Homo sapiens: one gene and its partner. Each later gene encodes a partner of the first gene's protein in a complex. Each region holds a gene or a part of one and is shown in the gene's direction. Other genes may lie near its edges.

The links.
Region 2: CDH26 (region 1) and CTNNB1 share a complex: the UniProt entries of both Homo sapiens proteins name them as parts of the cadherin:catenin adhesion complex.

Annotation. Positions count from the first base shown.
Region 1 is NC_000020.11:59,956,876-59,961,270, forward strand, and holds the start of CDH26 (cadherin-like protein 26 isoform a precursor), read left to right. Parts: upstream 1-1,547; 5' UTR 1,548-1,851; coding exon 1,852-1,920; intron 1,921-4,395. UniProt on the Homo sapiens protein: Cadherins are calcium-dependent cell adhesion proteins. They preferentially interact with themselves in a homophilic manner in connecting cells; cadherins may thus contribute to the sorting of heterogeneous cell types.
Region 2 is NC_000003.12:41,230,204-41,234,020, forward strand, and holds part of CTNNB1 (catenin beta-1), read left to right. Parts: intron 1-3,137; coding exon 3,138-3,241; intron 3,242-3,325; coding exon 3,326-3,664; intron 3,665-3,817. UniProt on the Homo sapiens protein: Key downstream component of the canonical Wnt signaling pathway.

The DNA of each region.
Region 1 (4,395 bases):
GTGTGTATATATGTATGTATATATGTGTATATATGTACATACACATATATACACATATATGTGTATATATACATATATGCGTGTATATATGTACATACACATATATACACACATATATGTGTATATATGTACATACACATATATACACGCATATATGTGTATATATACATATAGATACGCATATACACATTTTCTTTATCCACTAGTTGATTGATGGGCATTTGGGTTGGTTCCACGATTTTGCAATTGTGAATTTTGCTGCTATAAACGTGCATGTGCAAGTATCTTTTTCGAATAATGACTTCTTTTCCTCTGGGAAGATACCCAGTAGTGGGATTGCTGGATCAAATGGTAGTTCTACTTTTGTTCTTTAAGGAATCTCCACACTGTTTTCCATAGCAGCTGTACTATGTTATATTCCCCCCAGCAGTGTAGAAGTGTTCCCTGATTGTCACATCCACACCAACGTCTACTGTTTTTTGATTTTTTGATTATGGTCATTCTTGCAGGAGTAAGGTGGTATCGCACTGCGGTTTTGATTTGCGTTTTGCTGATCATTGGTGATGTTGAGCATTTTTTCATATGCTTGTTGACCATTTGTATATCTTCTTTTGAGAATTGTCTATTCATGTCCTTATCCCACTTTTTGATGGGATTGTTTTTTTCTTACTGATTTGTTGGAGTTCATTGTGGATTCTGGATATTAATCCTTTGTCAGATGTATAGATTGTGAAGATTTTCTCCCACTCTGTGGGTTGTCTGTTTACTCTGCTGACTGTTCCTTTTGCAGTGCAAAAGCTCTTTAGTTTAATTAGGTCCCAGCTATTTATCTTTGATTTTATTGCATTTGCTTTTTGGTTCTTGGTCATGAAATCCTTGCCTAAGCCAATATCTAGAACAAGCAAAGAAAGTTTACCTTTTATTTTATCTGTTTACTACTTTAAACAAGGTAATGTGATAAAAAGGTCATGTTAAGGTAATCAGGGTTAATGTATCACAGATTGTGTTTTAAAACTTGCTTACTGCAACCTTAAGTATTGGTATAATATAATCTCAAATTGTCTCTTTCAGAATTCTCATGCAAAGACTCCCGGGTTGCCACAGAGATCCCTGTCCATAGGGAGGCTCTTTCCCATCTCTCCTCCCTCCCACTTTAATTCCAAACTCAAAAAGGCAGATTAATCTAAGCTTAAAAAAGGTTTTAGTAGAAATAATTTGAAAACCCCAGAGCCCTGGGATATTGTTGGAATAACGATTTTTAGTGCTTTGGAAAGTAAAAGTTGATTTTTCTTTTCTTTCATTCTTCCCCATCCCTTCCCCCTTAATAAAGTTATCATTCTTGTCATTTTCTAGTTTTTTTTGTTTGGTTCAAGAGGATAAGATTATAGAAAATAGTCACTAACATATCCTGCTATAGAAAGAGATGATTGGACCTTCTATTTGGAAACCAGAACAAACAAGGAAACAAAGAAACAAATAATTCTGCTTTCCGATAGGTGCTGGTTTTACTTCCGCTGGCTGAGCTGTTGTTCCTGAGGTCAGACCCCAGCCAGTCTTTTGTGTACGTGCAGGACCATGGTGGCTTTAGTTTCTACCCCACCCTTCCTAGGAACTCTACTTGTGGCAAACGTATGTTCAAGCTTACAAGTCAGCCCACCCCACTCTGATAAATGCAAGAAAAGCTGAAAAGGGAGGAGCAAGATGGGATGAAAGCATCTGGGCCAAAGTGACCTGAAAACCTTTAGAGAAGAAGCTGCTGGCTGAGAAGGAGGTGTGTGGCTCCGGTGAGACCACCAGCTTGGAGGACTGGTCATCAGCTGCACGTTCTGGGTCTGTCTTGGGTATTCCCATATGGCCATGAGATCCGGGAGGCACCCCTCGCTGCTGCTGCTTCTAGTGCTGCTGCTGTGGCTGCTGCAGGTAAGCTGAGCCTGCAGCCTAGTGCTCAGGTGCAGGGAACTGAAAGCAAAGCACAAGCTGGCCCTGCCCCTTCTAGGCTAAGGGAGGGGAGAGGGACTGAGTGTGACCTGCTGGGACCCAGGGCTGGCTGTCTTGAGAATGGCTTAGGTAGCAGGGGCTCTGGATTTATATAAAGGGAAGTTAAGGGTCCCAGTCTGTTTGGGGCAACAGTGGGAGCAGGCTAAGGGACCTGTTTAAAACTAATTTATATAGTTCACACTATTTTTAGTGAGATTACATCAACACACACGTGTTTTCTTTCTTTGTTTCTTTCTCCTTTTGTTGAGACAGGGTCTGGCTTCATCATCCAGGCTGGAGTGCAGTGGCATGATCAAGGCTCACTGCAGCTTTAACCTCCCAGGCTCAGGTGATCCTTCCACCTCAGCCTCAAGAGTAGCTGGGACTACAGTAACTTACCACCACGCTGGCTAATTTCTGTATTTTTTATAGAGATGGATTTTCACCATGTTGCCCAGGCTGGTCTCGAACTCCTAAGCTCAAGTGATTTATTCGCCTTGCCCTTCCGAAGTGTTGGGTTTACAGGCATGAGCCACCTCACCCAGCCAACACACACAATTTTTTTTTTTTTTTGAGACAGGGTCTCGTCATCCAGGCTACAGTGCGTGGTGACATCTCAGTGCACCGCAACCTCCTCCTACTGGGTTCAAGCAACCTCCTGGCTCAGCCTCCCGAGTACTGGGACTACAGGTGCACGCCACCATGCCCGGCTAGTTTTTGTATTTTTATTAGAGACAGGGTTTCACCATGTTGGCCAGGCTGGTCTCAAACTCCTGACCTCAAGTGATCTGCCTGCCTCAGCCTCCCAAAGTGTTAGGATGACAGGCTTGAGACACTGCGCCCTGCCAAGTTTTATAATGATACTTCTGTTCACACTTTACATAAGATTGAGGAAATCTCAGTTGTCTGGATCCAAGGCAATTTGAGCAAACCCATGGGGATGGAATGGCTAAATCCATTGCCCCCAACTGCCACTGTTTAAATGGGAATACAAACTAGTGGAGTCAGGATTCGAAACACATGGGCTTGCTCTGTTTGTACTTAGAGTGGACAGAGGTAATGTTGCATGCGCTTGTTGGTTATGATCTGCTTCGTTGGCTTTCTGTAGGTAGGGAGAGGGAATCATTTCTTCCTTTGAATACCAGCTGAGGGTGGGAAGCAGCCCAGTGGCTGGTAACTGTGAGCTCTGGACTGGGCTGCTTGGCGTCCTGACCTAGGCTCCTTCACAGCCCGCTGGGGACCTAGGCCAGCTTAACTTTGTTCCTTACCTTGGATCAAGTTGAACTTACCTAGGGAGCTTCAAGGGATCTCAGTGCCTGGGTTTTGCCCCCAAAGGTTCAGGTTGAGCTGACCTGGGAGTGCACTGGGTGTCAGTGCACTGGTTTTAACATAACCTTGTTAAGCCTATTTTTCTTCACCTGAAAATGGAGCTAGTAACTGAATTTATCTGAGCCAGTGGTTGTACCAGTGAATGAGGAAATGCGTAAAAGCCCTTGGTACTGCGAAAGTTGTCAGAATCAGAATGGAGTTCCTTATGTTAAAACACACACACACACACACACACACACAGGCACAAAGCCTGATATATAGACACAAAGAAGGTTATGAAAAGGGGGTTCTCACATTTGTAGGCTTGATAACTAAAACTATCACAAAAGCTCTGCAAAAATAACAACTTTGCACAAAGGCCGTTAAAACCTTACACAAAAAATACTTTTTCGAAGAAATCTTCCCAGCAACTTTTTGTGCAAACTCAGACCAGTGTCACCCTTCTTATTGATCTTTGTAGCCAAAGATAATTATTTCAAAACAATGATATAATCCTTCTCATTTTTTCCTTTGAAAACCTTTATCTCCCTTTACCTCCCTGACTCTGCACATCGTTTACCATGGCACACATATTCCCATGGATATGTCCTTGCCCAGACAAACGTCATCTTCTCTTAGAGAGCCTCTGTCTACTATTAGGTTCACAGTTCAGTAACGACCCAGCCGTTTTTCTAATCACAGTGAAAATGGTTGGCAATATTCATTCAGAGCTCATGCTAAAACTATTTACTGGATACCTGCTTTGGGCCAGGCACTGGGAATACACCAATAAACATAATAGGGGGAAAACCCTGTCTGAAAGTGGATAACTTGTTTGGTACCAGTTGCTTGAGGTTTGGAGAATTTTCTTGGTCACATTTTGCCATATCAAGAGTTACGAGTTTCCTTAGTCAGACAGCACATTAATTTGATCTCCAATACTTCACAGAAGTCCTTTTTAGTAGCCCATGTTTGCATGGATTTGAATATAGTCCAGATCAAATCCTGTCCCCATCCTTCCCTCACTCCTGCTCCTACCCACAATGAGTCTGATCAGGAAACAGACCTGAATTCTCTTCCCTCTGGCGTATTAGTGCAGTGCCAAAGCAA
Region 2 (3,817 bases), on another chromosome or scaffold:
AGTTCATATAGAATGAGGGGATGGGATGTAAATTCTGTCAGCTGTTCCAGCAGTAACCTGTAATGTAGGCTAAAAATACAGATTTTGAGATTTATTTAATCAGAATCCCTGGAGTGTTAATTTTTATATCAAGATCTCATAGTGTTTTATTTGAAGTGACAGGGAGGTCTGTAGATAGCTGGACATGTATGGGACTGGAAGCTTAGGAATCTTTAAGTTCTTCCAGGTTATTCTTATGTTCATTTGTTTATTCTGAAAATAGCATCTAATGTATTTTAAGAAATGGAATAGGCACATAGTATACATTGGGTAACACAACAGATAGGGTCCCCGTGCTTAATTCTTAGTCTTGTGAAGGTGACAAAAATACTTAAAAATATGTGATCCTAAATTAGAATGAGTGTTATGGGAGAAATGACAGCAAATAGTGATGAGAATTAATGGGGAGGGGAATTGTCTAGATGAGAGGGAAAAGGTCTCCTTGAAAAGGGGATGTTAAGTGGGACTGCAGGATGAGAGGGAACCGTCTCTTGTCTATATGAGAAGTGAGGGTTAAACGTTTTCCAGGTAGAGAAAAGGAACACCATGTGCTATGTCTTAGAACCAGGGATATCCAGTCTTTTGGCTTCCCTGGGCCACATTGGAAGAAGAATAATTGTCTTGGGCTACACACCAAATACACTAATGATAGCTGATGAGCTAAAACAAAAAAAAATTGCAAAAGAATCTCATAATGTTTAAGAAAGTTTACGAATTTGTGTTGGGCTACATTCAGAGCTGTCCTAGGCCATGTGGCCCATGGGCTGCAGGTTGGACAAGCTTGCCTTAGAAGGAAAGAGATTGGTCAGGCACGGTGGCTCACGCCTGTAATTCCAGCACTTTGGGAGGCTGAGGTGGGCGGATCATGAGGTCAGGAGATCGAGACCAGCCTGGCTAACACAGTGAAACCCCATCTCTACTAAAAATACAAAAAGTTAGCCGGGCGTGGTGGCAGGCGCCTGTAGTCCCAGCTACTTGGGAGGCTGAGGCAGGAGAATGGTGTGAACCCGGGAGGCGGAGCTTGCAGTGAGCTGAGATAGCGCCACTGCACTTCAGCCTGGGCGACAGAGTGAGACTCTATCTCAAAAAAAAAAAAAAGGGAAAGAGATTGTGGAGATCCAGGTGCTGAAGAGAAGGTCTGCATAAACAGAACTTAGTAATGAGGTGGATGGCCTGGTATGAGGTTGAGGTTAGGTAAGCAGAGCCATAACATGCAGGACTTTCTAGGTTCCTATAAGATAGTTACTACTCATGGAGTTTATTCATGCTTTATTCCAGCTTTGGAGCCATAGATACAGAATACTTTGGTCAGTTTGGAAGGCTAGGTGGGATCCAAATTCTAAACGGTTCCTCAGGGTTATACTAAAGTATTTCTATTATCTTAAAAGGATGCTGAGACACTTTCGATGGTTGTTTATCAATAGCAAAGCATCACAGTGGTGTGTTTAAAATATTAATAATAGCATTGTATAGATTAACAGTTTGAATGACCAAAAGCTAGAAGACCAGACTACTGAGATGTTACAGGCTTTTAGGAATGAAATAGTTTGCTTTTAGAACTCAATAGCAAAGGGCAGATGTCTGAGATGCCTGAAAGAATCATAGAATGTAATAATATAGGAGCTAAGGGAGCAACCAAAAACGGTTTGTGGAGGGGACAACATTGGTACCATGAAGATAAATGGAACCCTCAGAAGGCATCCTTAATTTTTGAACATAATAATTTAAGAAGCTGACTTAAAGTGACTTAAAAGGTCAGTAGGTAGCTGGAAATGTATGATACTAGAATGCAAGAGAGGCAGGCTAGAGATTTGGAAGTTTCCCTCTTAGTATATAGGGGTAAGGGCAGCAGGGAAGGGGAGGTAGAGGTGCCACAGAGTCATCTGTATGGGACTTTTTTTTTTACCCTAGAACTGCTGAATCAGAATGTGTGTGTTTTAAAGTCTCTGTAGGCCATTCTGATGGACATCTGGGGTTAAAATCCATTCTCTTAGAGTTAATAGTTATGTAAAGGGAGGGAATGAAGTCTTAAAGAGGGGAAAGAAGGTAGTCATTTCACAAATACTGAGCATCCTGATCATCAGTCTTACGCAGATCATTCTATTAGTAGCTGGAGCTACTATGAAAAAGGAACCCAACAGAGGTGATCTTTGTCTTGTAGGGAAAGTGGAGTAACTTACACTATGAAGGAGAAGTGCAGGGTACCATAAGAATTACAGCAGATAGACCTCATCTGAGGAAATAAAACAGACCCGAAAGATGAAGGAGACAAGGAAAAGTATCTCTTACTGCATTCAGAAGTGATTTAAGTTGAAGATGGATGAGCGAAGTTAATCTACTATGTGGGCATTGGGCTTCCATTTATACTCCTTTGCCAGAGTAAATGTCCCCCATTTAAGGGTCCTAAAGGATGGAAGATTGTAAACCTTGGAACACATGTTTTGTAGTCAGTGAATTGTATAAAGTCCCTGACAGTAAGTGTTTTCATGCCGTCTTTCTGGATTGTTCTTACCCCAGGAATTTACCTAGCTTCTTTAGGTCTTTAGTCAGATGTCACCTTCACAGTGAGGTGACCTAATTATCTATTTAAAATCGCAGCCCCACTCCATTATTTTTCTCCATAGCCCTTTAATATCATCTGACATACTGTATGGTTTTAGTTTATTGTATATTTTTCTGCCTCTTCCAACTAGATCATAAATTCTGAGGGTAGGAACTTCTGAATATTTTTGTTCACTGGTCTATCTGCAGCTCAGAACAGGACCTGGTACTGAATAAATATTTTTGAAATGATTGAATGGATGAAAAGAAATGAGTAATAAGAATATTACCTAAGGGGGACAGTGGAGATAACAAAGGCTTTTTCGGCTTAGGAAAGGAACAGTAGCTATTTGAGAGTTTGTCACTAGTGAGGTGAACTGGCAAAGTGAAGGAAACTGAGCAACATTCTAGAAAATGAGAGGAAATCAAATACTTAGGTGAAAGGAAGTAAACTCTGGAAATACAGAAGGACACCTCCTAAGGCTAGAACAGATATTTAGGATTGATAGGCACTTCTAGCTAATGACTAGGGCCTTATATCCTTTTTAATTTTCTAGGTGGAATGCAAGCTTTAGGACTTCACCTGACAGATCCAAGTCAACGTCTTGTTCAGAACTGTCTTTGGACTCTCAGGAATCTTTCAGATGCTGCAACTAAACAGGTAAATTCTGAGTAAACTGGTGCCATGGGAATAGAGTCAAGATGAGTATGTGCTTGTACTGACCATCTGTTTTTATCTCCATAGGAAGGGATGGAAGGTCTCCTTGGGACTCTTGTTCAGCTTCTGGGTTCAGATGATATAAATGTGGTCACCTGTGCAGCTGGAATTCTTTCTAACCTCACTTGCAATAATTATAAGAACAAGATGATGGTCTGCCAAGTGGGTGGTATAGAGGCTCTTGTGCGTACTGTCCTTCGGGCTGGTGACAGGGAAGACATCACTGAGCCTGCCATCTGTGCTCTTCGTCATCTGACCAGCCGACACCAAGAAGCAGAGATGGCCCAGAATGCAGTTCGCCTTCACTATGGACTACCAGTTGTGGTTAAGCTCTTACACCCACCATCCCACTGGCCTCTGATAAAGGTAAATTGTCAAAGTAGAATTTACCTTTGTTGCAGAATTGAAAATGAAGCATCTCTAGCTGTTGGATGGCTGTCTAAGCATAGTGATCAATAAGTAGGAATTGTATTCCTTAGTAAGTAGGAAGTATGGCTGCGATAGGGGTAAGATTCTGAA